Linked DNA regions of Homo sapiens: regions 2, 3 and 4 are each linked to region 1. The links come from fine-mapping of genetic effects on gene expression. A gene starts in region 1. Each other region holds a variant in brackets. All regions are shown on one strand. Distances are between the middles of the regions.

What was found. PIP is the estimated chance that this variant, and not a neighbour inherited with it, causes the effect. A credible set is the group of variants that fine-mapping cannot tell apart.
Region 2: its variant is the best candidate, but not a certain one, in a credible set for the expression of FBXW8 in esophagus mucosa (GTEx, PIP 0.51).
Region 3: its variant is the best candidate, but not a certain one, in a credible set for the expression of FBXW8 in whole blood (INTERVAL, PIP 0.66).
Region 4: its variant is the best candidate, but not a certain one, in a credible set for the expression of FBXW8 in whole blood (INTERVAL, PIP 0.67).

What each region holds. Positions count from the first base shown.
Region 1 is chr12:116,908,060-116,913,059 of GRCh38, reverse strand. It overlaps FBXW8 (F-box and WD repeat domain containing 8), which reads right to left and starts at 2,110. Exons shown (of 11, transcript NM_153348.3): 1 at 1,705-2,110. The coding sequence starts at 2,022. It also overlaps the pseudogene RPL36P15. RefSeq lists silencers at 1,643-1,902, 2,063-2,282.
Region 2 is chr12:116,998,862-117,006,955 of GRCh38, reverse strand. The region is part of intron 7 of FBXW8 (F-box and WD repeat domain containing 8); the gene reads right to left. Among named protein-coding and RNA genes, the nearest start is that of FBXW8, 92 kb to the right of the region's middle. RefSeq lists an enhancer at 415-937. The variant G/C (reference allele first, on the strand shown) is at 3,656.
Region 3 is chr12:116,929,034-116,937,127 of GRCh38, reverse strand. The region is part of intron 2 of FBXW8 (F-box and WD repeat domain containing 8); the gene reads right to left. Among named protein-coding and RNA genes, the nearest start is that of FBXW8, 22 kb to the right of the region's middle. The variant G/A (reference allele first, on the strand shown) is at 3,460.
Region 4 is chr12:116,972,939-116,981,032 of GRCh38, reverse strand. The region is part of intron 5 of FBXW8 (F-box and WD repeat domain containing 8); the gene reads right to left. It overlaps LOC100506551 (a long non-coding RNA gene), which reads left to right. Exons shown (of 4, transcript NR_103809.1): 3 at 614-783; 4 at 1,444-3,593. Among named protein-coding and RNA genes, the nearest start is that of FBXW8, 66 kb to the right of the region's middle. The variant TA/A (reference allele first, on the strand shown) is at 4,646.

The DNA.
Region 1 (5,000 bases):
GTTCACGTGGTGAAACTTGGAGTTGAAAAGACCTGGATCCAAATTCAATCCCCAGAATCTATCAGTGGGGTAATGCTGGGCAAGTTACAGAGAATCTCTGAGTTTCTTCATTTGTAAAAGGAGAGTTAAAATCTACCTCACAGGATTGTTATATTCGAATTAGGGCAGAGCACAGGACTAAACACTTGGTAAAAACTCAAATAGTAGCTATTAATGCTATTTGAGTAAACTACATATTACATAAAATAATAGGCCATTATTTCTTGAAACAGCTTGCCACTTAAAAGAATTATTCTCGGCCGGGCGCGGTGGCTCACGCCTGTAATCCCAGCACTTAGGGAGGCCGAGGCGGGCGGATCACGAGGTCAGGAGATCGAGACCATCCTGGCTAACACAGTGAAACCCCATCTCTACTAAAAATACAAAAAGAAATTAGCCGGGCGTGGTGGTGGGCGCCTGTTAGTCCCAGCTACTGGGGAGGCTGAGGCAGGAGAATGGCGTGAACCTAGGAGGCGGAACTTGCAGTGAGCCGAGATCGCGCCACTGCAACTCCAGCCTGGGCGACAGAGCGAGCGAGACTCCGTCTCAAAAAAAAAAAAAAAAAAAAAGAATGATTCTCAATTGGGAGGATCACTTGGGCCCAGGAGTTTGAGACCAGACTGGGCAATACAGGGAGACCTTGTCTCTACCAAAAAATTTAAAAAATTAGCTGAGTGTGGTGGCGCATGCGTGTAGTCCCAGCTACGCGGGATGCTGAGGGAAGAGGATGGCTTGAGCCAGGCAGTTTGAGGCTGCAGTGGGCCGGGAGAGCAACAGTACACTCTAGCCTGGGCAACAGAGCAAGACCCTGTCTCAGAAAAGAAAGAAAGAAAGAAAAAAAAAAAAAAACAGGAAAAAAAAAAGTGGGTTCCCAATTGTAAAGCTGTAGGGACTTCCTTTGGGCCTAATTTAAATCAAACCATTAGAACCTGGAGCCTTGTCCTCTTAACCTGGGAGCCACGGATGCATTTCAGGTGTTCTTGATTTTCCCAACTTTCTGAAGGGGATTATTTTTAACGGACACAGGGTCCCCAGCTTCCTCCAGATTCTCCAAGGTATCCACGCCCCACAAAAAGATAAGAAACTCTATCCTAATGAAAGTGCCCAGGAGATTCTTCCTCCTCTTCTTCCTTTTTTTCTGAGATAATTTTTTTGAATACGTGCACGGTTACAAAAATTAAATAGTGCAAACAGTATACAAAGGTAAAATTACTTCCTATCCATCATCTGGGTCCTCCTTTTCAAAGGCAACCTTTGTTCAAAGTTTAGGTAGCCTTCAAGAGCAGGATTTCTCAACCCCACACTTACTGATATTTTGTCCTGGATAATTTTTTTGTGCGTGGTGTCCTGTACACTGTAGGATGTTCAGGAGCATCTCTGGCCTCTACCCACTAGATGCCCAGTAACATGCACACATACACACCCCGATGAGGCACCCAAAAATGTCTGCAGACACTGCCACATCTGGGGGAACAAAATCGCCCTGGTTGGGAAGTGCTGCTTCCAGAAAGACCCCTATGCAAGCACAAACATTGGTGTTTGTGCGTCTACTCATTTTCTCGGGCAACTAGTGGCACACAGTTACTCTCCAAATCACTGCAGGGGTTTGTCCTGGGGGCGGGGGCCGGCGCAGGCATGGGCGGGGGGGAGGCGACGGCCACTCACCAGGTCGCGGATGAGCTGGTCCACCAGCTGCTCCCCGCCCCCGGCGCCCTCGCGGGCCAGAGGAGAACGTGAGCGGCTCGCTACGTCCTGCCCCTCGGCCCGAGTCGCCCGCGCCGCCGGGGGCCTCCCCGCGCCCTCCAGGAGACGCTGGGCCAGCGCCGGGTCCCCCGAGGCCTGTTCGCCGCGCCCGGAGCCCACCTCCGGCCGCCGAGCCCGCCTCTCGGCAGCCTCGGGCCGTCGCCGCTTCTTCGGCGCCTGGGCCTGCGCCAGCTCCTCCTGCCAGCGCCGACGGAACTCATCCAGGCTGTAGTCGTCCATATTCGCCGCTCCCGGCGCTCCACGTTCTCCTCGGTTCCACCGGGTGCCACGAGACAGTCCCGCCCAGGGAAGTGTCCGCCGCGGCCGGAAGCCGCTGCCGCCGCCGCTCTAGGGTTCCGGGTGGGCGTCCACGCCCCCGCCACGCCCCCGGCGCTGCCCCTGTACGCACGTGGTGGTCCGGCTTGTGGCTTGTGGCGCCCAAAGCAGAGGTTTACGCAGCTGCCCCTCAGCCCGTCAGCTCTGCTGCCTATCACTTTTGCTAAGCTCTGACTTTGCGCCAAGCATTGTTCCTTCATTCAACAAACATTCATTCAGCAACTACTATATGCCAGGCACCAAGAATTCAGCATTTAAATCTGTAAAACAAAACAAAAACTCTGACGTCTTGGAGCATGCGTTTAAGTAGGGAGACTTTAAACAAAGAAATATGAACATTTAAATCAGTGATAGGTATTAGGAAGAAAACAAAATAAGGTAAGGTAAGGGGAGTAAGGATTGATAGTGAAAGTCTGTTTAAGATGTTATTTAAATTAAAATCTAAAAGAGAATCAACAGGTGGATAAAGAAACTGATATATACATATGGTGGAATACTACTCAGCCATAAAAAAGGAATGAATTCATGGCATTCGTAGCAACCTGGATGGGATTGGAGACTATTATTCTAAGTGAAGTAACTCAGGAATGGAAAACCAAACATCGTATGTTCTCACATATAAGTGGGAGCTAAGCTACGAGGATGCAAAAGCATAAGAATGACTTATGGGACTTTGGAACAGGGGAGGGGGACGAGGGGAGGGTGGGAAGGTGGGGAGGGATAAAAGACTATAACTTGGGTTCAGTGTATACTGCTCGGGTGATGCGTGCACCAAAATCTCACAAATCACCACTAAAGAACTTACTCATGTAACCAAATACCACCTGTTCCCAATAACCTGTGGAAATAAAAATTTTTTTTTAAAAATCTGAAAGAGAAACCAGCCAAGGGAAGGTCAGATCTTAGGAGAGAGATTTCCAGAAGGAAATCCAAGGGCTTTAAGATGGGAAAGAAAATGACATACGATGGCGTTCCACTTAAAAATGTTTTCTTTGCACCTGATATTCCCTCAGCAGGGAACTTTTCCCCCCACCTTGACTTGGTTAACTCCTACACATCTTTCATATCTCAACTCACATTTCACTTAATCTTCCAACCTCCACTCAAGAAACATCAGGTATCCCTGTTACTCATTCTCACAGCATCCTGTACTTCTCATCATAATACATAACACAATTTGTAATTTTATTTTTATGTATATATATATATCCCTTCCCTTCTAGATTGGCAACTCTTAGCTTTGAGACTGGTGATTAATACATGCTCAATAAATGGTTTTTTGTTTGTTTGTTTGTTTGGTTTGTTTTGTTTTTGAGACGGAGTCTCGCTCTGTTGCCCAGGCTGGAGTGCAGTGGCGCGATCTCGGCTCGCTGGAAGCTCCGCCTCCCGGGTTCACGCCATTCTCCTGCCTCAGCCTCCTGAGTAGCTAGGACTACAGGTGCCCGCCACCACACCTGGCTAAGTTTTTGTATTTTTAGTAGAGATAGGGTTTCACCATGTTGGCCAGACTAGTCTTGAACTCCTGACCTCAAGTGATCCACCCACCTCAGCCTCCCAAAGTGCTGGGGTTACAGGTGTGAGCCACCACTCCAGGCTCAAAGATGCTCTTGCAATTAACTGTCCCTTATTCCTTGTCTAACTCTTCTTAGTCTCTCAGGCCTCTTCTCTAGAATCACTTCTGTAAATAAACTAGCTGCCTACAAACCCAGGGCTCAGGCTTGCTTACTGTGGGAAACCAGGCTTGGACAACCTTCACTGTAGAAAATTAGAGTATATGGTTGGGCGTATATTCACACCACTACACTCCAGCTTGGGCGACAGTGCGAGACTCTGTCTCAAAAAAACAAAAAAAAGAAAGAGCATCTCTGAGTTGGTCCTACTGTGGCAATTTAGGCTCATTCCATTAGCACCTTCTAAGGAGCCTTAGAACACAGCTCAGAATTGTCCTCCCAAGAGATAAGAGCCAGAAGAGGAAAGCATTTGTCCAGTGACTCTCATCCCCTACTAGAGAAAGGCTAAGCCAAGGAGCTTTAACAACCTCCCACTTCTAGATTGGGTATAAGTAAACGGATTATCATGGATGTTCCGTACCAAGGCAGCAGAGATGCTCTGGGGCAAAAAGCAGGAGGTACACTGTGCAGCTAACAGGAACGACTGTCAGGTTACACGTGCACAAAGCCAGTTGCTACAGCAGTGACTAAGGTAAAAGATGAGTGAAGTGATGCAAGATGGAACATAAGCATCCAATACAAGTAAGCATTCTCTTTTTTTTCCGTAAAGGTTTTATTATACACAGAAGGGGAAGAAGTCTCAGTTCTTCTTGGCAGCCATTCGCTTCCTGGAGGTCAAGATATTGCCCAGCTCCTCTCACTTCTTATGGTGCAGATGTGTGTCCCCGCTCTCTTCTTGATGAACTTGAGGGTCCACTTTTTCTTGGAGACCTTGAACAATTCCAAGGTGCATCACTTATATAGAACAAAGCCACACACCTCTCACATCATGTCCCACACGAACTTTCTGTGCTTGGTGGGGTGCCTGCGGTGGCAGCAGTGGCCATGCTTGCTCACATTCTTGGTCCTCACCTTGTGGCCCTCACTGAGACCCACAGACATGGGAGACCACAGAAACATGGCTGCTGCTCATCAGTGGCTGCTGCCAATAAATATTATTGTAATAAAAATAAAAACGAGCTAATTTTTCCCCATTCCGCTAGCATCCCATTCATCCCATGTGCCTTCCATGTGAAATCCAAAGGTCATACTTACTTTGATTATCTACTTGCAAGTCAAAAGCCAAATATCACTTTTCTGGTATCTCTAGATTTTATGGACCATCTAACACTTAAAACAGAAAGCAAACTGGAATTAAAAAAAATGGGGTCT
Region 2 (8,094 bases), 92 kb before region 1:
TTCCCTACGTGTCAATACCTATAGATAGATCTTGTTCTTTTTAATGGTTGTGTAGAATTTCTCTGTGGATACACAACTCCATATGGATTGTTTATAATTTTTAGATAAAATAAATAATGCTGTGATTCATTCAAGAGCTGGCCAACAGATATTTATCAATCATCTTCTAGGCACTGGAATGAACGTGCAGGGACGCTGGGTGACATGCAGAAGTCCCAGCCTGCTGCCAGCTGACAGAGCCCACCTCTTCCCCAGCTGGGGCCTGACCGTCAGCTGTCCTGCTCCTCCATAGACGGGGCCTGCCTCTCTGAGGAGACCCACCGATCATCTTCTAGCCATGTCCTGGCAGCTGGTGTCCTAAGCAGCAGGGGCGGTGGTCCAGAGTCAGGAAGGAGACACCAGCTACAGGCCCAACAACTGGGAGGCATCAGCCACCGCCGTGGGCAGGCGGGCCCCGCAGCATCCAGGTGTGGCCTGGACTGGCTTTCCAGGCAAACTGTGAAGGAAAGAGCTGAGAGATGGCTCTTGTCCCTGTGGGGGTGGGAGGCGGGGTGAGCTCAAGGCAGACCAACTTCTTCCTTCACCCAGTAAGAAATGGATTAACACTGCAAGCTCTTCCTAAATTGGGGGCTATCACCCTCATAATTAATCATGAACCACTTGCATACTGAAATCACTGTGAAGAGATGATAGAGCCTTACCCTCTCAGAATTTTGGTCCTATACTGATGAATGAGGAAAGGAACTCTGTGTTTTAATTTTACCAAAATACTGAGTCTTCATACTCAAATACCTGCTACAGGCATTAAACCACCACCAGGCATTAAGCCACCCCAGCAGCTGGCTCAGCTCCCCAGAAGCCCAGCACTGTCTGTCCAGAGAGCCCAGGAGGAGTCGGAAGGCTTCCTTACAAGACAATAGCATTTTAAAAGCTTTTTCAATTGAAGATGATTTGTTGGCCGCCATTTAAAAAAGGGCAGTGGCAAAGAGAGCCAAAGGTTAGGAGGTGCTGTGCTGGGCTGAGTGGAGTATAAGAGAAGAGGCACGAGAGGAAGATGTGACTACACTTCCTGAAGATGATACCATCTACCCACTTTCTTTTCTGATCCCTAGTAACCTGCCTCACATATGTGGCTCTTGGCTCTTCTGAACAGGGAAGTTGTGATCAGAGGCCAGATGCTGGGCAGTGAGGCAGTTAAACCGCCTGCTCTCTTCTTTTCCGTCCACTCCAGCTGCCTTTGTGCTCTCTTCTCCATGATGTCCTTGGCACATAGTGCCCATTCCCCTGGTCAGTGCTGACAGTCCTTGCTGTCTGCACGCATCACGTGGTGTTTCGACAAGGTCACCCTGACCTGTGTCTTATCTTCTTCCGGCTCTTCCCCAGATCTGTGGTTCTCAGATACTGGAGGGGAGGAGGCGGTGACTCCAGCAGGTCAGGGGAGGCTCTGCAGCACTATTACCAAGCACCACACCGCATCACACTACACGTTGTAACACTCTCCTAGGTTTCAACTCTAAGGTTCCTAACTCTAAGGTTCCTGGGGACAGAGATCCTATCATTCATTCATTCATGTGGCAATTATTAAAGGGCAGTACATGCCAGGTACAGTGTCAGTTACACATTCCCGCATCTCACTAAGTGCCTGCATTTGTGTTTGGAGGCTCACTGATTGGTACACGATGCCAGGCAAATCCAGAGCTTCCTATAGTCTCAGACCCCAAAGATACTCAGATGTTGCTTTTAGTGCTTTAACACCTTCCTCCACTCCTGGATCTTGCTGCTGGTATGTACAAAGGAACTGCTCCATCCTACCCAAAACAGAAGATGGTTCCACAGAGATCTCTTCATACTATTCAGATGCCAGAGTGCCCCAACTACATCCAGTCCGACAGTCCCACCTCTGACAACATGGCAGACAAGAATGTCTGGAAAACCTTGCCATTTACAAACAGTGACCATGCTGGATAAGACTCAGCCTATCATCAAACAGTCCTTCAGACATTCTGTTTAATAAGCAATCAGAGAAATTCACAGGAGCCCAAAATGGAGACAGCATGAAACCCAGATGAAGAGAGCACGAAACCCAGGAAGTTAAGAGAGCATTCAAGCCAGGGGCTAGTTTGGACCCTCCCTCCAGTGTCAGGAGCCTGGAGAGCTGGGGAAACAGGAGAGCTGGGGAAACAGGAGACCAAGCATCTGCCCAGCATGAAGTAGAACCTACAGTTGGGTCCCTGCAGGGCTACATACATTCAGTAAAAAGCAAGCAAGATGGGGAAAGTATCTATTGGTGCAGAGAGCTTACCCAGAAACGTGTCTGCCTCAGGTTCAGTTCGGGGTGGAAAACAGTCTGAAGTCACATGTCTGCCCCCACACAAGTTCTGGGTTTGAGTTTACACCACCTGCAAGGCTAAAAGAATCCAAGCCTAATAAAGTATTTTCGGGTTGGTAACATACCTCCCAGTACCTTGGCAGAATCTTCTCAGGAGGGAAACAATTTCAACTCAGGCCCCTTTAAGAAACCTACAAATCAAGATCAACTGAGTATTAGCTCACAATTTAAAAAATCCAAATACAGCAAGAAGTGATATATCATATGTGAGACAGAAAAACAAGGAGAATTAGACTTCCAGGCAAGATCAAATAAAGAATACAAAATAAGCATGCTGAAAATGTTTACAGATAAAAGAGGGAGAGGATAAAAAGTAGGAAATCGGATTAAGCAGATTTGAAAAATAAAGCAGAGAATTTCTAGAAATTAAAAAGTCAATGGATGAGATAAGCAAGAAATAAGTCCGAGAGAGAAACTGTGGACTGGAATACCGAGTTGAGGAATTGGGCGGAATGCAACAGACAGAGAGATGGGAAATCTGAATGGGCAGTGAGCAGCACGGAGGAGGGGAGAAGCTGCCTTCATGCACACCTCCCCTGAGCTCCACGCAGAGCATCGCGATACATTTCCAGTAAGATAAGGGCCAAGAATTCTCTACAACTGAAAGGAGGGACACACAAGAAATCCCAGACAGTATAAAAATAAATAAATAAATCCCAGACATACAAAGAGACATTGGCATGAAACCACAGAAAATTAAAGACAAGGAGAAGATCTTAAAAGCAGTCAAAAGGAGAGAAAGTCCTAAAAGAGAATGACAGACTGACAGCCAACTCGTCAGTAGTGTCAGTGGAAGGCAAAACCAGTCATATCCTCAAAGGCTGAGCAAAAATAACTGTCAAGCTAGAACTGTAAAAGACTAGCAAAACTACCTTTCAAGGATAAGGATGAAATGAAGGTGCTGTAAGAAAGAAACACGGAAAACACTTGTGACCAAGTCCTTATGAAAGAAACTTCTAAAGAATGCACTTTTGGGAGACAGAAAATCATTCCAGAAAAAAGGTCTGAGGTGCTGGAAGAAATAGTCAACAAAGATTCAAGTAATGAGCATAAAAGAATCCAGATGCTGTCTGCAAAAACAATGTTGATTTGGGGGTTAAATACATAGAATAATCTGTACCTAGTCTTTATTCCAACCAGTCAAATGCCATGAATCAGGAAAAAGTACCATAACCATGGAAGATGCCAGATGCCCAGGGTGCGCCCCCCGCACTGTCTGGAAGGAACAGAAGCTCCTTTGGATACCTGTGCAGTGTTTGGCACATA[G/C]GAGGGGCTCAGTATACAGGTGATGAAAGAATGAGCAGATGAATACACACTGTACATGTCTGCGTGTATCTACCCCTTACAGGCGACTGCTATGCTGGCCTTACAGTAAAGACAGGCTTCACGCATACAAATGAACACACAAAGTCGATTTGCTGTCCACCAACTGCAATGTATACAGCTGTTTGCTAAGTGCCAGGTACACTTTTATTCAGTACAGATCTTCACATACAAGACTAGTGATGCTCCTTTTTAAAAAACAAAAGATACAAAAGAAAAAGTCCTATACATCTTCATGGTAGAATTTACTCACATAAACGACCCACATTGCTATTCTGACCCAACAAAAGTAAGATCCACAGAAACGTGGAATTGAACTACAAAAATGCAAGGTGTGCCTATCAACGTTCATGCACAAAGCTAGGTGAACAGTCTCTATAAATTCACAGATGAGCTAAGACTTTAAAAAAACAGGAATGAGAAAGATAGACAACTGGGGAGAGGGGGAGCCAGTGACAAAAGAGTAAATCATACACAAAACAGCCAATAAAAAAATAAAAATGCAGTTAATATACATGAATAATGGATGTCTGATTTAAAAGCAGTTTACTCCGATATGATGTAATTTTTGACAATCAGCCAGAGAGACTATTTTGTAAGTCCTTGCCAGAGATAAGTCATAGCGTGAGGCTTGGTAACACGGCCGTATCTGTGAACATGTGGAAAATGACTTTCACCACCATCCCAAAGGTGACTTTCTGTTGGCAAACAGAAGCTTGCCTTTCAGGTGCACTTCGCAGCAGCAACCGGCAAGATGCAAATCTTGAAGAAATGGATCCCTGACCCCCTCAACGTTCCCTGCAACATGGCACCCCTTAACAGTCTCCACGACATGCTTCTGGCACCGTCCATGCTCAAATTCAGCACAAAGGGAGAAGCAGCCTGAGCCGCTTTCATGTTTAAGTTTTAATTGGAGTGACAAGCCCACGAGGCCAAGATATTTCAGGGATGGGACGGTGTTGCTGAGCGTCGCCAGGCGCTGGGTAGGCAAGGCCTGTGTGCGCTCCCCACCACCACGTGCCAATGCACCTGCAACCCCCGCTGTTCCAGGACTGGACTCTTCCCGGGCAGGCAGTGCCAACTGCTGCGGGCTGTGCCAAACATGGGGGCTTTGTGATGTGGGCAGATGTCTACAAAGGACCGGAGTGAGGCCAAACCAACACCTATTGTGACCTAAGCCTGAAAGGAACCCACAGAGCAAGAGTACACTCGGGTACAAATCCAGGCAAAAACCATCCAAACCGGCCAATCTCTCTCTCTCAGCACGTCCGTAGGTGCTGGGAATAATAAAGGAAGGCCAGGCCTACTTTGTGGAGTGAGCAGAATATGGTTCTCTCTTTGCTTTGGGATCATTTTTGTCTCAGTGCTGGTGTAAGGGTAAGAAATGTGATCATGAAGACCTGGTTAATGCTCACATAACACAAACAGGGAATATTCATGTCAGAGCAGTGAGTCCAGCGAAGAGATGATAACCATCGTGCAAATGTATGACTGACTGGGAGCTGAAAATCCTTACACCCTCCTTCATGCTCCCAACAGGCCTCATCCCCACAGAGAGCATGGGCAGTGTCAAAATGCCAGGAACACTGACACACGGAAATAATCACCAAGAGAAGGTTATAATATCTATCTTACGGAGTGAAAACTGAGGCTGCAAACTATGAAGTGAACTCTTTAAAATTAAAGGCAACTTGCATACTATTTTGAAAATGAAAAGGTTACCATGAGATGCTCATAATGTACAAGTATCTGTATGCCGACAGGACTTAGTGAACATTGCACATGAAATTCAGTATATTACACTAGCTTGGTTATCGATTTTCTTTTGACTAGCCTGGCAACTTCTAGTTTGGCCCAAAGTTAGACTGGACAAAAGCTTCTAGAAGAGGGCAGGCAGGCAGCTAAAATCAGATCACTGAAACAAATAGCCCCAGGGGGAGACTGGGAAGCCGCAGCGAATAATCAGGGCCTTTGGTGGAGGGCAGCAGGTCCACCCAGGGGCTCCCCCCAGCTCCCTAAGGCATAACGGCCTCTACTCACTCTACATGGTGCATGAGGTATTGGCAGAGACATGCTTAGCAGCATTTTGCACATAAACAAACACTACACATATGAGCTCTTTGTAATACCCAGGACATGCCTTTCACACAAATTCCTTCGGAATATCCTTCCATTTGAATCTCACAACCACCAAGAGGGAGAGAAGACAAATACTACTGCCTACATTTTGTGCATCAAGAAACTGAGGCTTAAATAATTTTAAGTAGCTTGCCCCAAATTACATGGGCAACAAAAGGAGCTGAGGTGGCACTAGGTGGAGCGCAGCTCGTGTCATTCCTGCGCCACTTTGTGACCATATCACAATGTCTTTCCTGTCCTACCAAAATAGTTATTAATAACAGCTAATATTTATAATATTCTCTTACATGCAAAACACTGCTATGATGCGTTATCTCACCTGACCTCCACAGTGCTGTAAGATAGGTACCATGATTTTACTCCCTTTACACAGGAGAATATGGGGCCCTAAGGAGCTCAAACCTCTTGCCCAGTTAGGAAGTTTTGGCACCAGGATTCAAACCTGGGTGGGTGGTATCAAAGCTCATACTCTTTAAACCTCTACCCCAGGGTGCTCAAAGTGTGGTCCCAGGACTAGCAGCCTCCGCTGCTCTGGGCACTTGTTAGACATGCAAATTCTCAGGCCCCACCCTCGACCCACTGAGTCGGAAGCTCCGGGGGTGGGGCCAGTGCTCAGTGTTTTCATCAGGTCTCCTGTAGATTCTGATGCATGCTGGCATGTGAGAACCCCTGTGCTCTACCTATACTGCCTTTCAGGCTAACGAAGAACTTCAGCCATGACAGTGGTAAGTATTACTCAGCTATCAGTGCTTACTTCCTGCTTCCAAATTGCTGCCAATCTGGGGAGGCAATAGTGCTGGGCGGTGCCGGTATGAAAATATGAGATGCAGGCTGGGTGCGGTGGCTCACGCCTGTAATCCCAGCACTTTGGGAGGCCGAGGTGGGCGGATCATGAGGTCAGGAGATAGAGACCATCCTGGCTAACACGGTGAAACCACGTCTCTACTAAAAATACAAAAGGCAGGCGTGGTGGCGGGCGCCTGTAGTCCCAGCTACTCGGGAGGCTGAGGCAGGAGAATGGCGAGAACCCGGGAGGCGGAGCTTGCAGTGAGCAGAGATCGCGCCACTGCGCTCCAGCCTGGGAGACAGCGAGACTCCGTCTCAAAAAAAAAAAAAAAAAAAATGAGATGCAGACCCTGTGTTCTGTACAAGCTCAGGGCCAGAGCTCTGATGCTCAATGAGAGGCAGATAGTTTGTAAGGCTGCTTCTGTTAAGTAGGACTGTTTTTCAAAAGGACATGGCAAGACAGGAGAGGAAGAGGGGATGCTAGTGCCAGTCCCCGGTCAGGAATGAATGTGGCACATTGAGGATGGCGCTGGCCTGGCTGGAGCAGGGGTCTCATTCTGGAAGCACAGGACTAGAGAGCTAGGAGCTAAGATGGGGCCTGACTCCCCACAGTCTAGAAGGCCAGGCTGAAGATGGGCACCGGGGCCTTACCCATGCTCCTCGCCACGCAGCCAGTGCTCTGAGAAAACCTGAAGTGGACCGTGAGGAGGGGCACTGACAGGTGGACAGGTGCCACAAGAGTATAAAGGTGGGGAAAGGGCAGGGGCGAGCCAGGAAGGGGAAATGCGCTCGGGGAGGGATTATTTTCATGTCATTTTCAACATACTTTTAAAACTTGTGATCATGAGATCACAGTAAGAGTTCAAACCCAAGCAAACAGCAGAGTGCAAAGAAGCCACCCGGGCCAGATGGCCTAACCCTGCAAAGACCCAAAGAAATCTGGATGAGGAATTCAGTTTGGGGCCAGTCGGTCATCCCACGTCCCTGGCACAGTTCTCCTGCAGCAGAGGCAAGCTAAGGCTGGAAGCCAGGTCCAGCAGAGCAGCTCTCTGGACACAGCCCACTTCCTCATTTTAATGCACCTTCAGCCTCATGGCTCTTCCTGAGTCCCTTAGTTTGGGATGCGACCGCTCAGATGTGGGCTGAGCAGGAGTTTTCCTTTGCTCTCTACAAAGGGGATTTACCCTGTAAATTAATAACACATCGAGGGAATGCTTTAAAGAGTAACTTTGCGTCCATTAGAAGGATTCATCTGCAACTCAGTAATTGATAAGTTAATTACAAACCCACTCTCTAACACAGTGCCCTATAGAAGACTGAAGTGCGGAGGAAATTAATAAATCATAGTCATCTATGTACTGAATAAAAAGTGAAAGTTCTCTACTTGGTAATATTTTGTGAGTCTAAGCTGCGATGTGTATTTTGAAAACAGTAAAATGTTTTAAATATTCAGAAAT
Region 3 (8,094 bases), 23 kb before region 1:
GCCCTTGTTGACTCTCTTCCTTCTGTCCCCACATCCAGCCCATCCACAATCCTGACTCTGTCCACTTCTGCTGGTGCCATCCTGGCCCAAGCACCACATCCTCTTCTCTGGATTACTTCAGTGGCCTCCTAACTGGTCTCCTTGCTGCTGTCCTTGTCCCCCAACAACCGATTCTCCACACAGCAGCCCAAATGGTCCCTTTTTAAACGTAGGGCAGCCCTTGTCACCCCTCTGCTCAAAGCACTCCAAAGGCTTCCCATCTTATTCACAAAACTTCGAGTTCTTTTAATGGATTAAACGCTTATCACATCCTGAGTCCTCTCCTCCTCTTATCCTTCTGCTCACCACATCCCCGTATCAGTCTCCTATGGCTGCGCTAACAAACTACTACAAACTTAGCTGCTTAAAACAATACAGATTTATTCGCTTATAGTTCCGGAGACCAGAAGTGTAAAAGCAAGGTGTGGGCAGGGCTGCATTCCTTCCGGAGGCTTCAGAAAGAAAACAGTTTTCTTACCTTTTCCAGCTTCAAGCTACCTACATTCCTTGGTTTGTGGCCCCTTCCTCCACCTTCAAGGCCAGCAACACAGCATCTTCTCTCCTCCCTGACGTCCTGCCTCCCTCTTACAAGACTTGTAATGCACTGGACCCACCTGTATAATCCAAGATAATCACCCCATCTCTAGATCCTTAACCTAATCACATCGGCAAAGGGCGTTTTATCATGAAAGGTAACATACTGGTGGGATTCAGGGATTAGGACGTCAGCATATTTGGGAGGGCCATTATTCAGCGTACGACAACCACCCACTTGGACCTTCCTGCTGTTCTTCAAACACAACAGGCGCACCCTGCCTCAGATGAGCTTCAGCTGTGTCTGCCTCAAGTCCTTCGTCCTTGCTATTCCACTCTGCCAGAGATCTGCACAGTGTCCTTCACCCCTCCTTCAGGTCTTTGCTCAAAGCTCACCTTCTCTGCAAAGTCTTCCCTGGCCACTCAAAAGTGCAACCCCCATATCACCTCTACTGTCTTGTTCTTCTCCATAGCACTCACTGCCATCTGATAACTCTATTTAATCATGTCTTTATTGTATATACAATGGAAGCTCTCTGAGAAGCTGGTTTTTTATGTTTTATTCTCAGCTGTCTTCACTATATAGAACAGTACCTCGCACATACATAGTCAGCTCTATATAAATAACCAAATGAGATAAAAGTGTAAGTCCAACTTTTTTTTAAAAATTAGCATTGCTTTTAATTCTCAAAGGTCATAGACACAGCTCAGCTCCTGGCATGTGCTGCCCTCCGTAGGCTCCTTCTTATTCACATGTATTATTTTGCTTTATGCTTTTTTTTCTAGTAAACTTTTTAATTGTGGAAAAGTTCAAACACACAAGAGTAAAGTGAACAATATAAAGAACTCCAAAGTACCCACCACTTAGCTCAATGTTCATTTGCCATTCTTGTTTCATCTAGCTCCCAATCTGTTTTTTAGAGTGATTTTGCCTTTCCCTAAATTTGTGCTTAAAGGAGGCAGCCAAAACAATCACATGAATTAAAAGGAACTCCTGAGGGCACTTGGGTCTTGAGCATACAAGGAACCTTCCACAGAACTTCCTGATAAGAGAAGTCTGGCGGCAAGGGTGAAAGTGAAGAACTAAGGGAACCCTGCCAGCAACTACAGGTCTGCAGAATCACTTTTGCCAGGAAAATCAATTCAGCCTCACTTGGCTATGGATTCCTGACTCACACAGACTTCATTAAGATTATAGATCTTTAGCTATAAGCACCTGGATTTTAGTTTCTCCTACATGGACATAAAATCACATTTTCCTTGAAACTTGAAATACCATAATCTAATATGCTGGTCTTTGGTTCTAGAATTACTTATTTATTTTGCTGTCAACTACTTCTTGCTCACCAATATTATCATAAATTTCAAGTTTTTAACCTCTGCATCTTCCCTCTTTTTCTTTATTACTTTGTTTATGCACGTTTTTCTATCTTTTACTTGATAAACATGACATCATTACTTATGCAGCTAAATTCCTAAAATTACATATTAGGAAATACAAAGCACTAAAATATACATTAAAAAACTGAAAACAAAATTATGGAGTTGGAGAACAGATCAGTGGTTGCCAGGGGTTAGAGATGGAGCTGGGGGTGAAAGGGTCGGGGAAGGACTTGAGGCCAGTGTGGCCGTCAAAGACTGTGAAAGAGTAGCACAAGAGATTCTCGTGATGAATGTTCTACATGTTGACTGCGGTGGTGGTCACACAAATCTACATCCATGTAAAGTTCCATAGATTCACAAATAAGTGCATGTAAAACTAGTGACATCAACAAGATTTGTGAATTGTGCCAATGTCAGGTCCTGGTTTGCTACTGTTCTGTAGTTATGCGGGATATTACCAATGGAGGAAACTGGGGGAAGGGTACACAGGAACTCTCTGTACTATTTTTTGCAACTTCCTATGAATTTATAATAATTTTTAAAGTTTAAAAAATGAATATTGGTAAATACCTAAAAGCCATCACTCCTCAGAATTATTCACACTGTAATATAATGGCAGACTTACTTTTCTCCTAAAAACCAATTTGTAATTTTGAAACCAACAACTGTATCATTGTTATCGACTAAAAAATTGTCTCCTTTAAATACCAGGAATCCTGTGGGCACAAAAAAAGATGAACATAAAATTATAAATAGCAAGATTACAAACCTGTTCAATGAACTGTCCAACAAGTAACTTTGCTTACTAAAAGCTACACTGTTTTCAAGATGTTTCGGCAAGAAACACTCCCACAGAGAGATTAAGTCCCTCGAGGGACAACTATTGAAAGGAAGGAGCTGGAGACCTCAGCATCAAAAGTACACACAGATCACAAACTAATGTAGCAGGACTTCAGTTTTCAAAACATAAAGCCTCAAAAGCAAAAAAAAGAGGAGGGGATATGGAAAGGAGGCAAAGTCAAAGCAAAATCAGTCTCCGGCATGGTTTGTGGGATAATTAAATCTCAAAGGCCTCCCAGTAACAGAGTTTCTTACTGTTAGTCAGTTACCAATTTGGCATAAAGATCTAAGCAAACAGGTTTTCTCCAAGGGCATACATTTAGTTCATGGTGCCAATTCCACATAACTGGCCCAATTTCACTAAAATCCCAAGGCACCTAGATTAAAAGAGAGATGGAGAGAGAGAAAAAAAGCAAGCCCCTCTAAAATAAAATCATAAAGCAGCAGGACATTCCACAGAAGGATTTCCTCCCTGTTTCAAAATAAAAACACCCCAAGAAACAAATGAAAGTGCTACTTATTTTTATTACTTTGTGGTTTTAATTTTAATGATTGATGAAACAAAGCCAATTCTACAAACTACTGGCCATCTATTGTCATTCTCATGTAAGAGCTCCATAAAACTCCTGACTTCACAGATCACAGCTAACTTAGTCACTGTAC[G/A]CTAACGGGGTTCTGTTTAAGAATATTTTCTATTCTTATATATGTGCTCTAACAACTGGGTTAACAACAACAACAAAAAGCCAAATCCAACTGGCCATAGAGGGAAGAATTCTGGTGGACAATTGGACTACTGTGTTGCAAATTAAACTGTTCACACCTGCAGAATAATATCACCAGCATAACCAATCTACCCTGTAATGCAGCCCCATTGTACCAAAAGGGGATCTCTTCTTCCACTAGATTCTATCTTTCTCTGATAAACTCTTTGGATGAGAAAACCAGCAGCAGATGTGAAAGCCACATGGCTCTCTACAAAGCAGGGGAGCAAAAAGCAATGTTAAAAGAAATGATTTCTTAAACAGCAGCTCGCTATCAAGAATGAAGATTTTATCATCTAATGCTGACTTTGTGTAAAGCAGCTAGCTATTAGACCCTGTTCCAAGACTTCGGCTAACAGCATCAGGCTGAAATCCAGGAATTGGCCTCATTTAGCTACACTCTTGTTTTCAACTCTTGGGAGCAGGCCAATGTGTAAAGTTAGAATATAACAAATCAAATTTCCAAGGGGAAAGAAAACAATATAGGTACTCATGCTTAATGCAACTCATAGGCTCTGAGCACAGTTTACACTTCAGCACATTTTTTTTAAGTGAATTTTAGCCTTTAAATAATTTCCATCATTTCCTAAAGACACACACTCCGCATCAAAAAATATCTGCCAATGCCCCCACTTAAGCAATACTAACAACAATAATCAAGAATATTGAAAATTCTTTCAAATTCATATTCAAGTAGAAAAACGATTAAGCAAAATGCTTCACAAAGAAAGATTAGAACGGCTGGGCACAGTGGCTCACGCCTGTAATCCCAGCACTTTGGGAGGCCGAGGCAGGTGGATCACGAGGTCAAGAGATGGAGACCATCCTGGCCAACATGGTGAAACCCCGTCTCTACTAAAAATACAAAAATTAGCTGGGCATGGTGGCGCACCTGTAGTCCCAGCTACTTGGGAGGCTGAGGCAGGAGAATAGCTTGAACCTGGGAGGCAGAGGTTGCAGTGAGCCGAGATCGCGCCACTGCACTCCAGCCTGGTGACAGCGAGACTCCGTCAAAGAAAAAGAAAGAGTAGAACACCATAAACTGTCTAAATGGTCCTGTATCATGTGTGATTTCACTGAACTGCCATGGAGGTAGCAAGCTCCAGAGTCTAAATTTGGGTACAGTTTTCACCACTCTCAAACCGCCTTCATATGCTGAACTTCATAGTCTTGCTGGTGCTTTGAATTTTATGTTCAGTTTTCCTACCAGTGAATTTTGCAAACCCTTGCTCTTGAAGCTGTAAACACCTGTGTAAAATGCAGTATAGAATCCAGGGATGAAAATGCTAACCATTAAACAAACTAATTTTTTGGCAGTTATGGAGAATGGATACTCCAGTGTCTCCTAGAGAATACAGTTGTCCATCAAAGGCCAAATGGTTAGCAATCATACACCCATTTAACTTACGAAAAATCAACAGAAATCTATAAATGTAATACAATGCATTAACAGAATGAAGGAGAAAAACGATGTGATCACCTCAGGTGCAGAAAAAGCATCTGACAAAATTCAAGATCCTTTCATGATAAAAACTCTTAATAAATGAGGTATAGAAGAAATGTACTTTAACACAATAAAGGCCACATGTGACAAAACCAAAGCTAAAGTCATACTTAGTAAAAAGTTGAAAGCTTTTCTTCAGGAATAAGACAAGGATGCACACTCTCACCATTTCCATTCAACATAGTACTAGAAGTCTTAGTCACAGCAATTAGGCAACAGAAAGAAATAAAAGGCATCCAAGCAGAAAGGAGGAAGTTAATCTGTTCCTGTTTACAGACAATATAAACATAAACATAGGAAACCCTAAATACTCCACCAAGAAACTAATAAACAAATTCAGTTATGGGTACAAAATCAATATACAAAAATCAGTAGAGTTTCTATATACTAACAACAAGCTATCTGTAAAAGAAATCAAGAAAATAACCCCATTCACAATAGCCACACCAAAAATAAATACTTAGGAACAAATTCAACCAAGGAAGCTAAAGACCAGTATGCTGAAAACTATAAAACACTAAGGAGAAAACGGATGATACAAATAAATAGAAAGATATTCCATGTTCATGGATTGGAAGAATATTATCAAAATGTCCATACTACTCAAAGTGAGTGAAATGCAATCTCTATAAAAATTCCAAAGACATTTTCACAGATACAGGAAAAAAAAAAGATAAAATTTGCATAAAAACACAAAACACTGCAAATAGCCAAAGCAATCCTGAGCAAAAAGAACAATGCTGGAGGCATCACAATACCTCATTTCAAAATATACTACAAAGCTATAGCAATGTACACAGCATGTCACTGGCATAAAAACAGATATATAGACCAGTAAAACAGAACTGAGAGCCCAGAAATAAGCCTGTGCATTTACAGTCAACTGATTTTCAATGAAGGTGCTAACAACACACAATGGGGAAAAAAGTCTCCAATAAATGGTGTTGTGAGAACTGGATATCCACATACAGAAGAATGAAATTAGATCCCATCTCACACTATTATAAAGAAGTGAACTCTTACTTGAAGCCAGGAGTTCGAGACTAGCCTGGGTAACAAAGCAAGACCCTGTCCTTACAAAAAATTTAAAAGTTAGCTGGGCATGTTGGCGTGAGCCTATAGTCCCAGCTACTCGGGAGGTTGAGGTGGGAGAATCACGTGAGCCCAAAAGTTTGAGGCTACAGTGAGCTACGATTGTACCACTGCATGCCAGCCTGGGCAACAGAGTGAGGCTCTGTCTCAATAAAAAAAATAAAAATAAGTTCAAAACGGATTAAAATCTTAAACATAAGACTTGAAACTGTAAAACTATGGGAAAGAAACTTAGGGGAAAAACTCCATGACACTGGTATAGGTAATGATTTTTTGGATATGACCCCAAAAGAACAGGCAACAAAAACAGACAAATGGGATTACATCAAACTAAAAAGCTTTTGTACAGCAAAGGAAACAATCAACAGAATACAGAGACAACCTATAAAAGAGAAAAAATATTTCCAAACCATATATCTCATAAGCAGTTAATATCCAAAATATTACATAAGGAACTCAAACAACTCAATAGCAAGAAGACAAAAAACCCAATTTAAAAATGAGCAAAGGACCTGAATAGACATTTCTCAAAAGAAGACATACAAATGGCCAATAGGTATATTTAAAAATGCTCAACAATACTAATCATCAGAGAAATGCAAATTAAACTACACCTGTTAGAATGGCTATTACCAAAAAGACAAAACAAGTGCTGGCAAAGACATGGAGAGAAGGGAACCCTTGCACACTGTTAGTGGGAATGGAAATTAGCACAGCCATTAAGGAAACAGGTTCCTTAGAATATTAAAAATATAACTACCATATGATTCAGCAATTCTGGTTGCTGGGTATACATCCAAAGGAAGTGAAATCAGTTTGTCAAAGTGATCTCTGTACTGCCAGGCTCATTGCAACATTATTCACAACAGCCAAGATACAGAATCAACAGATAAATGATACATAATGTGGCATGTATACACAATGGAATACTATTCAGCCTTTAGAAAAAAAAAGAAGGAAATCATGTCATTTACAACAACATGGTGGATGAACCTAGAGGGCATTATGTTAAGTGAAATAAGCCAGCCACAGAAAGACAAATATTGCATGATCTCACTTAAATGTAGAATCTAAAAAAGTTGAGCTCATAGAAGTAGAGAGTAGAATGGCGGTTACCAGTGGCTGGCGGGGCAGGATGGGACACTGGAAAGATGTCAAAGGATACAAAATTTCAGTTAGATGAGAGAAATAAGTTCAGAGCTCTACTGTACAACACAGTGACTTCAGTTAATGATGTATACTTGAAAATCACTAAGAGATAGATTTTAAGTGTTCTCACCACAGAAAATAAGTATGTGAGGTAATACATGTTAGTTACCTCAACTGAGCCATTCCACAATGCATAGATATTTCAAAAATCATGTTATACCTGATACATATATATAACTTTATTTGTCCATTTAAAAAAATAAAATGAAATTTTTAAAAAAAGAAAAATCAGTCCAGGCCCAGTGGCTCATGCCTGTAATCCCAGCACTTTGGGAGGCTGAGGTGGGTGGATTACTTGAGGTCAGGAGTTCAAGACCAGCCTGGCCAACATGACAAAATCGTGTCTCTACTAAAAATACAAAAATTAGCTGCATGTGGTGGCATGAGCCTGTAATCCCAGCTATGCGGGTGGCTGAGGCAAGAGAATAGCTTGAACCCAGGAGGCAGAGGTTGCAGGAAGCCGAGATCGCGCCACTGCACTCCAGCCTCGGTGACAGAGCAAGACTCTGTCTCAAAAAAAGAAAAGAAAAATCAATCACACACTCTTGGCCAAAAAGACGAGAACAAGAGAACGATGTTAATGGCATAAACCTTTGCCTCTCTCAAAGTGTGGCCAAAGCCACACTGGCATCCCCTGCTTAGAAAGCAGACCATCAATGGGGCCGGGCGCGGTGGCTCATGCCTGTAATCCCAGCACTTTGAGAGGCCAAGGCGGGCAGATCACCTGAGATC
Region 4 (8,094 bases), 66 kb before region 1:
TTTTGTACCAAGGCACTATTCTAGGGACTGGGGATATCACAGTGAATAAGACAAAATAAAACAAAAAAAGTCCCTGACTGATCGAGCCAACATTTTAGTGACATATAAGAATTGAAAGGATACCTGTTTTCATAAAACACACACTGGAGAGAAACAAATATTTAATAACTAAAATATAAAACACAATGATCACAGAGAGATATACACAAAGCACAATGGAACAATGAATAAGCTTAACTTTTGGTCATGCTGTCACACTATTTTAAGACCCCAGAAAAGGAGCAGCAAACTTTTCTAGATGTTTTAACTTGAACCAAGTCTGCATTTATTGCATAACTACTAAGGAAGAAGTAGTTAATGCCTGTCAGGGTCAAGGAAATTCACTTCTCAAATAGGTATTTTTTTTTAAATCTGATATAAATTCATTTGAAAGGTCAAGTGTTATCATACTGCGGACCTAGCAATGAAATGGATTTGGCTCCTGACACTGTGAACTTGTGAAATGGCAAGACTGTGTCCTTTTCCCTCTCTATGCCCTATGGTAAGGAATTCACAGTGCTGGATGTGGCTGTACATCAATAAAGGTTTGCTTAATGCTTGTCATATGTTTCAGCAATGGAACATTTGGTTGTAAGAAACAGACACCCACTGAAACTGGCTTAAACATAAAAAGGAAACTGACTGGAAAGGAATGAGGCTACTTCATGGAGCCCAAGGGCAGGAAGTACAGCTGGAGGTGATAAGGGATCAGAACCAGGAACCAGGAAGACATGCAGAACCAAGGTAGTGTATGTAACTTGTGTGCACCACAGATCTTATCTCTGCTTCTCTCTGCAATTCTATTTCATTCTTCTTTTCGGAAACCAGCTTTCTCTCATCCCTGGGTACATGGAGAAAGGTGGCTGTCCCCATTCCAGGAGGTCTTCTACTCCAAGAATGCAACAAAGTTTGAGTCCCAACCAGCCCATCCCAGTCCATGAATCAGCTTCCCCCAAGAACTGGGGCCCCATCCCTCATCCAATTAGCTGAGGCCAAAAGACTAACTCAAATACTATGAACATGCCCACCTGGAGAGGGCCTGGGGAGGGACCTCAGGGCAAGGAGACAACCCCCTGCCCAAAGATCTCTACGACTTCTCTCCTGCACAGTAGGCCAAGGTAAAACAAGAGAAAAAGTCTCAGCAAACACAAAGGGAGGTTCTACTTGGTTTCTTGGCAGTGGCATAAGAAGCAAGTGTTTTTTTTTTTTTTTTTTTGCCATTCCCTGCACCAGGCATCATCCTGAAGGCCAGAGTTTATAGCCCCCATTTTGCCCCACACTAGAGAAACAGAAAGAGCAGGTGTTTTTCTTCCTTCCTGACCAAACCTCAATAGCTGGATAAAAGATGATTAATTCTGAGTAGTGCTGGGATTGCAACAATACTGTTTCACTCATAACAAACAGGAAAAGGATGCAGACAAAAGAAGAAACTGGGTCTCTTGAAACATCCAGAAGACAAGTGAGGACCACTGGCCCAATAAAGGAGAAGGGGCAGGGCCTGGCACTCCCACCTGCTCCCTGGGCTCAGGACCCTCCACCTTGACAAGCAGCAGCCAGGCTGAAGGAACTCTGAGCTCAGCCTAGACCAGTAACAGCCATTAACGATGACATGAGTAACGATGGCCAGTCTTTCGAGGAGACATAAAGCCTGCTCAGCAGCTGTGGATGGGCACCCATGCCAGTTTGCAGCAGGCCCCTCCCACCTCCCTAAGGAGGCCAGCCAGAGTGTGGTAATGAAACTGCACATAGTGGAAATGGGATCTAAATGAGTTTAAACTGATTTATGTTAGCTTTTGTAAAGATTACTCGATATCTGGAAAGTGCTACCACTGTGAAATAATGTCGACAATCCTTAAGACCTCTGTCTAATGGTACTTGCACAGAATATTTATATTCTTCGTCATGGGAACAAGGACCATAATGGATACCATTTTTGTTTTATTAGGGATGCATATTTAAATTAATCTGCTATTTGCCTAAACAATTAGCTGCTTCTGTTTGTGTGCACAAAGCCAAAATTGCAATTAAGCTTCCATCAAAAAGATAAGTCCCAACTAAAACTGTCCCGGTGGAGTCATAAGAGCTCAGGGCAGAACTTTCCAAAATTACTTTTTAGCATAATGGTAATTATGTTAATTGCCTGAAAGGTAAATAACTGCTGAACTGGTTTTGGAAAAAAAACACAATTGGTATACTCTTCCCTCCCCTTTGATCTTTTCCATGCACCACAAAATTTAAAACAGGTTAACAGTTTCGAAAGGTCATAGACTAGTCCCTTCTTCAACTACAGAGCTGGTCTTGTGGTCTTTAGTGGTTTCTTGATTAGAAATTATTTCAGCCGCGAGCTCCCATCCTCTTGAGCTTCCACAATAAACACCTGAAGCTTGGTGTCAACTTCATGATCGTTAAATAGACAGGATCAATTAACTGCGTTCAGAGATACTGAATGAAGTTGACTATTTATAATAAAGACAGCTGGCAATCTCAATTTCTACCATGTAAATAAACACTTGCCTATCAGAAATTAATCAGGAGTCAAAAGAAATTCTGCAACAAAGGAAAAGGCATTTTGACAAAAATTTTAAATATACCCATAGCACTGACTTAACACGTACCTCTTTGTTCATTAAGTCCACACATCACCACTCTGAAATGCAGGCCAGAGACATAAAACTAGCATAAAGTTGGACAGGACAAAAGTTTTTGCTCTTCATGGAAGAGGTGCCGGTGGGAGATTAGTATCAGTGTAGACAAGGGTCATAAAGAACAGCTAAACCACGGAGGGTCACGAAAAAGGAAAAAGGCTGAAGTTTCTTGTTACTGCAGCTACTGTGGCATGCCATCCTGCTTTCCCGCTGACCACAGCGCTACAGCTCTGTTGCCTAAGGCAGAAAATAAACAGAAAACATTCTGGAATCTGCATTTTAGATTGACAAGTAAAAGAATCTGAATAGGCTTATGGAGGAGGCGACTGGTTAGGGCATAAACAAAGCAGCGAGATCACCAAAATAGAAACTGAGTCAAGAGAAGAGGAAGTAAGATTGAATATATTTAGTAGCTCTCAAATTCAAAGCAGAAAGAACACCTGAAAAAGAAGAATGAAAAATGACGAGACAGCAGACTGAAAAGGAGGCAAATAGTATATTGTTAAGACTATGGCAATGTGACTAGATAGAAGAATTTCCAGTTAACATCTTAGGAAAAACAGATTGATGGAGAAGGCAAAGAATTTGGACCAGCTTCTACAAGGGAAAGTTCCAGAGGGCAGGTAACGTGAAAGAGACATCACTGTGCATGCAGCCTCAGACTGAGGCCAGTGTTCTCTATAACCGATATACACATGATATAGACTCTATCCCGAAGAGATCAGCAGACACTGGTAGTAGCAGATGCCTCTAAGGAGGGGAGTGGGGAATCAGTGGACTGGGTGGTAGTAGATTAAAAAAAAAAGATCACTACTGAAGCTGAGTGATGGGTACACGGGGGTGCATCATGCTATTCGTTCCATTTTTGTGTATTTTGAATTTTTCACAATAAAAGATTTTTAAGAATAACCATTTGAAAGGCTATCACTAACAAAAGTAAAAATACGTTAATTTGTGTTTTACAAACGTTTTCAACAGCCACACTGCAGACTAAGTGTCTTCTCAGATCTACGGTGAAAATTCTAGTGATGACATTTTGCAGCCTTTAGAAATCCCATTCCAAATCCTGAAAAAAAAATCTTAAAATTATACTATCAATTAATTCCCTTTCAAGGAAAGTAATAAATGGCTCAAATAAAAAGCAGGGGGAAAAGTCTACATAAAGATTTAAATGATGGCGAAACTGCAGTCGGTTCTGAGTTACCTAACACCAAATAAGAATGAGAAGACAGAAACCACAGACAGCCTAACATCTCACTTGGGCATTCAGATACCAATGCAAATCCCCCCAACAAATAGATGGTTTTGCCACAAGGCCCCGATGTCTGGGGTGGGGCTCTCGGGTCTCCCTCCCCTGTGCCCAGAGTGGATCACAAGAGCCCAATAGAGACGGAGACTCACATGGCCACCTGCCTTCCAGACCAGTGCTCTTCAGACTTTTTTGATTACCCCCTGAAATGATTTTGAAAAACAAGGCCTGCCTTTCCCGTTTTATATATGAAACCGATAAATTTTTTTTGTCCTAAGTTGTAAGTAGTGGCAAAAACGTAACATCTGGCATGTTTGTAAATGTTGACATTTTAAAATAAAATGGCTACACTATTCTTTAAAAAGTATTCTCTGGGAGGCTGAGGGAGGGCAGATCACTTGAGGCTAGGAGTTTGAGACCAGCCTGGCCAACAGGGTGAAACGCCATCTCTAATAAAAATACAAAAAAAAAAAAAAAATTAGCCGGTGTGGTGGTGCATGCCTGTAATCCCAGCTACTCAGGAGGCTGAGGCAGAAGAATCGCTTGAACCTGGGAGGTGGAGGTTGCAGCGAGCTGAGATTATACCACTGCACTCCAGCCTGGGCAACAGAGTGAGACTCTGTTTTGAAAAAAAAAAAAAAAAAAAAAAGGATCCTTTGGAAACAAAATACCAAAGATTAGGTACTCATCATCATGCATTTTTTTTTTTTTT[TA/A]AAGAAAAGGGGAGGGTGCAGGTGGGGAATAGCTTGAAGACAAATAGCAAGATACAAAAAAGAGAAATGCTGAGGATCCCTGATTATAACCACCACCAAAAGAACACAAGGGTACCATCTAATCTCAGGCCTCCAAGTCAGCCAGACAGCAGAAAAGCGGCAAGCACATTCTTTTCTAAGTAATCATGTAACATTGTTTTTAAATGGCATTAAATTGCTATGGGAAAAATCCAGTCTTATTTAATCCTGTAATTTGATAGTCTTTTTTGATTTTGAAATAATTTCAGACTTACAAAAATGTTATAAAAATTATGCAAAGAGTTCCAGTTATAGCTTCATCCAGCTTTCCCAAATGTTAACCTATTACATAACCATAGCAGAATGATGGAAGCCAGGAAATTAACGCTGATGCAACATATTTAATCTACAGATTTTATTTGCATTTAACCTGTCCTCTTACCAGCATATTTTTTCTGGTCCAGGATCCAATCCAGAATTCCACATAGCATCTAGCTGCCATGTCTCCTTCATCGACTCCAATCTGGGGCAATTACTCAGTCATTCCTTGTCCTTCATGACCCTGACACTTTTGAAAAGTACTGCTCATTTATTGTGTAGGCCTCTCAATTGTCTGCTGTTTCCTCATATTTAAAATCAGAAGGTGTTGTGCCTTCCCAGTGCATTATGTATCAGGAGGTACATAATATCAAAGTTTCATTACTGGCCATGTTAACTATCATCACTTGGTTAAGGTGGTATCTGCCAGTTTTCTCTACTGTAAAGTTACTGTTTTTCTCTTACGGAGTGATAATTTCACACCATGCAAATGTCCTGTTACTCATTGCTCATCTGAATGTTGTGTCCCCCCTACCACCATTTCAGTGTTAAAATCCTAACCCCCTAAGTGATGGTACCAGGAAATGAGACCTTTGGGATGTGATCAGGTCATGACGACAGTGCCTGAGAGCTCCTTTGCCCTTTCCACCATGTGAGAGAAGGCACTGCCTGGAAGGAAGGGCTCTCGCCAGACATAGAATCTGCCAGTGCCCTGATCTTGGACTTTCCAGCCTCCAGAAATGTCAGAAATATACTTCTGTTGTTTATAAGTCACCCAGTTTATACTGTTTTGTTATAACAGCCCAAACGGACAGAGACATTCATCACATTGATTTTAACATCCGCTGGTGATTCTTGCCTACGACAATTATGATTACGGTGCTTGCCAAATGGTGGCTTTCTATTTTCATCATCCTTTCCCATACAGCAATTCAACTACTACTGTAAGGAAGAGCTATCTCTTCTCCTTTATTTATTCAAGTATTTATTGATACCAATATGGACTCATGGGTAATTAATTATCCATAGGTTATAGTCCATCACTATCATCATGTTTTGTTGCTCAAGTTGTCCTTCCTTTAGCCCTCAGGAGCTCCAATTTAGTTCTACTGTCCTATAGATGCCCTACCTTCATCTTTTTATTTATTTTAAACATCCTTACTTTTGGGTCCCATAAAATGTTCCAGATTCATCTTGTATTTATCTGCCCTAGCCCTTGTTCCTTTTATTGAAGAACATTTAGAAACCAAAATCTGGGCACTAGCTGTGCTTACTGTTACCAGGGTACACAATATATTCTTTTTTTGGAGGCAGGTGTCACTCTGTCACCCAGGCTGGAGTGCAATGGCATGATCATGGCTCACTGGAGCCTTGACCTCCCAGGCTCAAGTGATCCTCCTGCCTCAGCCATGCTTCATTTTTATTGGATGACAGACATTGTGAATTTTACATTGCTGGTTGCTAGCTTTTGTTGTATTCTACAAAATAGTATGGAAGTTTATTCTGATGCAAAATTAAGACACTCAGAATCGGCTGGATCCTTTTGTGGCTTGCTTTCCAACTTTTTTTAGGGGATCCCGAGCAGCTTTTAGTCTAGGGCTGAATTAGCCCCATTACTAAAACATGGTACCCTTCTGAAGATTCCACTCAACAATCCATGTATTACGAGGTCTTTTTACTCTTGGGGAAGTGCAAACTATTCTTAGCCTCATGTGAGCTCCAGGAATTGTTGTGCCTTCTCCTTTCAGGTAGTTCTTTCCCTGATCCAGGTATTTCCTCTTACACATGTGCAGAGTAGGACTCAGCCAAAGACTCGAGGGAATCCTCAGCCAATCCCTGGGGTTCTCCCTCTGGGAGCTCCCTCTTCCCCAATACTCTGGCCCACAAATTCTATCCACCTTGGCTTCCCTGAGCCCTCACTGGGGCCTCCTCAAGTCAGGGAGGCCACCAGACTCTGTTTAGGTCCCCCTCCTTGTTTGGAGTTTCCAGCTGGTGAGCTGGTGTAACTGTGGGCCTCACCATGTTTGTTCTCCTCCAAGAGATCACAGCCATGGGCTACTTATTTTCCAATGTCTAGAAACCATGGTTTAATATATTTTGTCCGGTTTTCTAGTTAAGGTGGAAAGATAAATCCAGTTCCTGTTACTTCATCTTTCTCAAAAACACGTTATTTTTTATCTTTTTATTTTGAAACTTTCAAAATTACAGAAAAGCTGCAAGAACTTCTATATACTCACTGTTCAGATCCCATTGCCAACTGTCCCAGTAATGTTCTTTGTAGAAAAACAACCCAAGCCAGGATGACACACTGCACTCCATTGTCAGGTCTCTCTTCTCTTTCCACCTGGAATAGTTCTTAAGACCTTCCCTGAGTTTCATGACCTTGACAGTGCTGAAGAGGACAGGCCAGTCATTTTGTGGAATGTCCCTCAGTTTGGGCTTGTGTGATATTTTCTCGTGATTAGATCAGGCTGTGCACTTTTGGCTGGAATAATATCAAAGAAGTGATTCTGTGTTTTTTCTCACTGCATCGTGTCACATGGCACAGGTTATCAATTCTACCATTACTGATGATGTTAAATGTGATCACTTTATTAAGACGGTTCCTGTTAGATTTCCTGACTGCAGAGTTATCTTTTCCTGCCTTTTAATTAGTAAGTGTTTAGTGGGGAGATTTTTTGAGACCATGTAAGACCCCATCCCTCATCCCATTCTTATCCTCTGGTTTTAGCCTCAATTGATTTTTTGTCTGAATCAATTATTACTGTGATGGTTGCCAATGTGTAATTTTCTAATCCCATCATGCTTTCTGCATTTATTAGTTGACATTCTACTATAAGGAAACTTTTCTCTCCTCCCTTTTTATTTATTGATCTGTTTATTTTTATCATGATATACTCATATATTCCTATTTTATTCAATGGGTTGTAACCTGTTATTATCAATATTGACTTTGATACTCCAGTTGTCCCAGGTTTGGCCAGTGGGAACATCTTCAAGCTCACTTATGTGTCCTTGTGACATGTTGTCATCATTCTTCAAGCACTTCTTCACTTCAGTGCAATCAGATGGTCCAGGCTTACTGTGTGGTTTCACTGCCCCATCCCTGGAG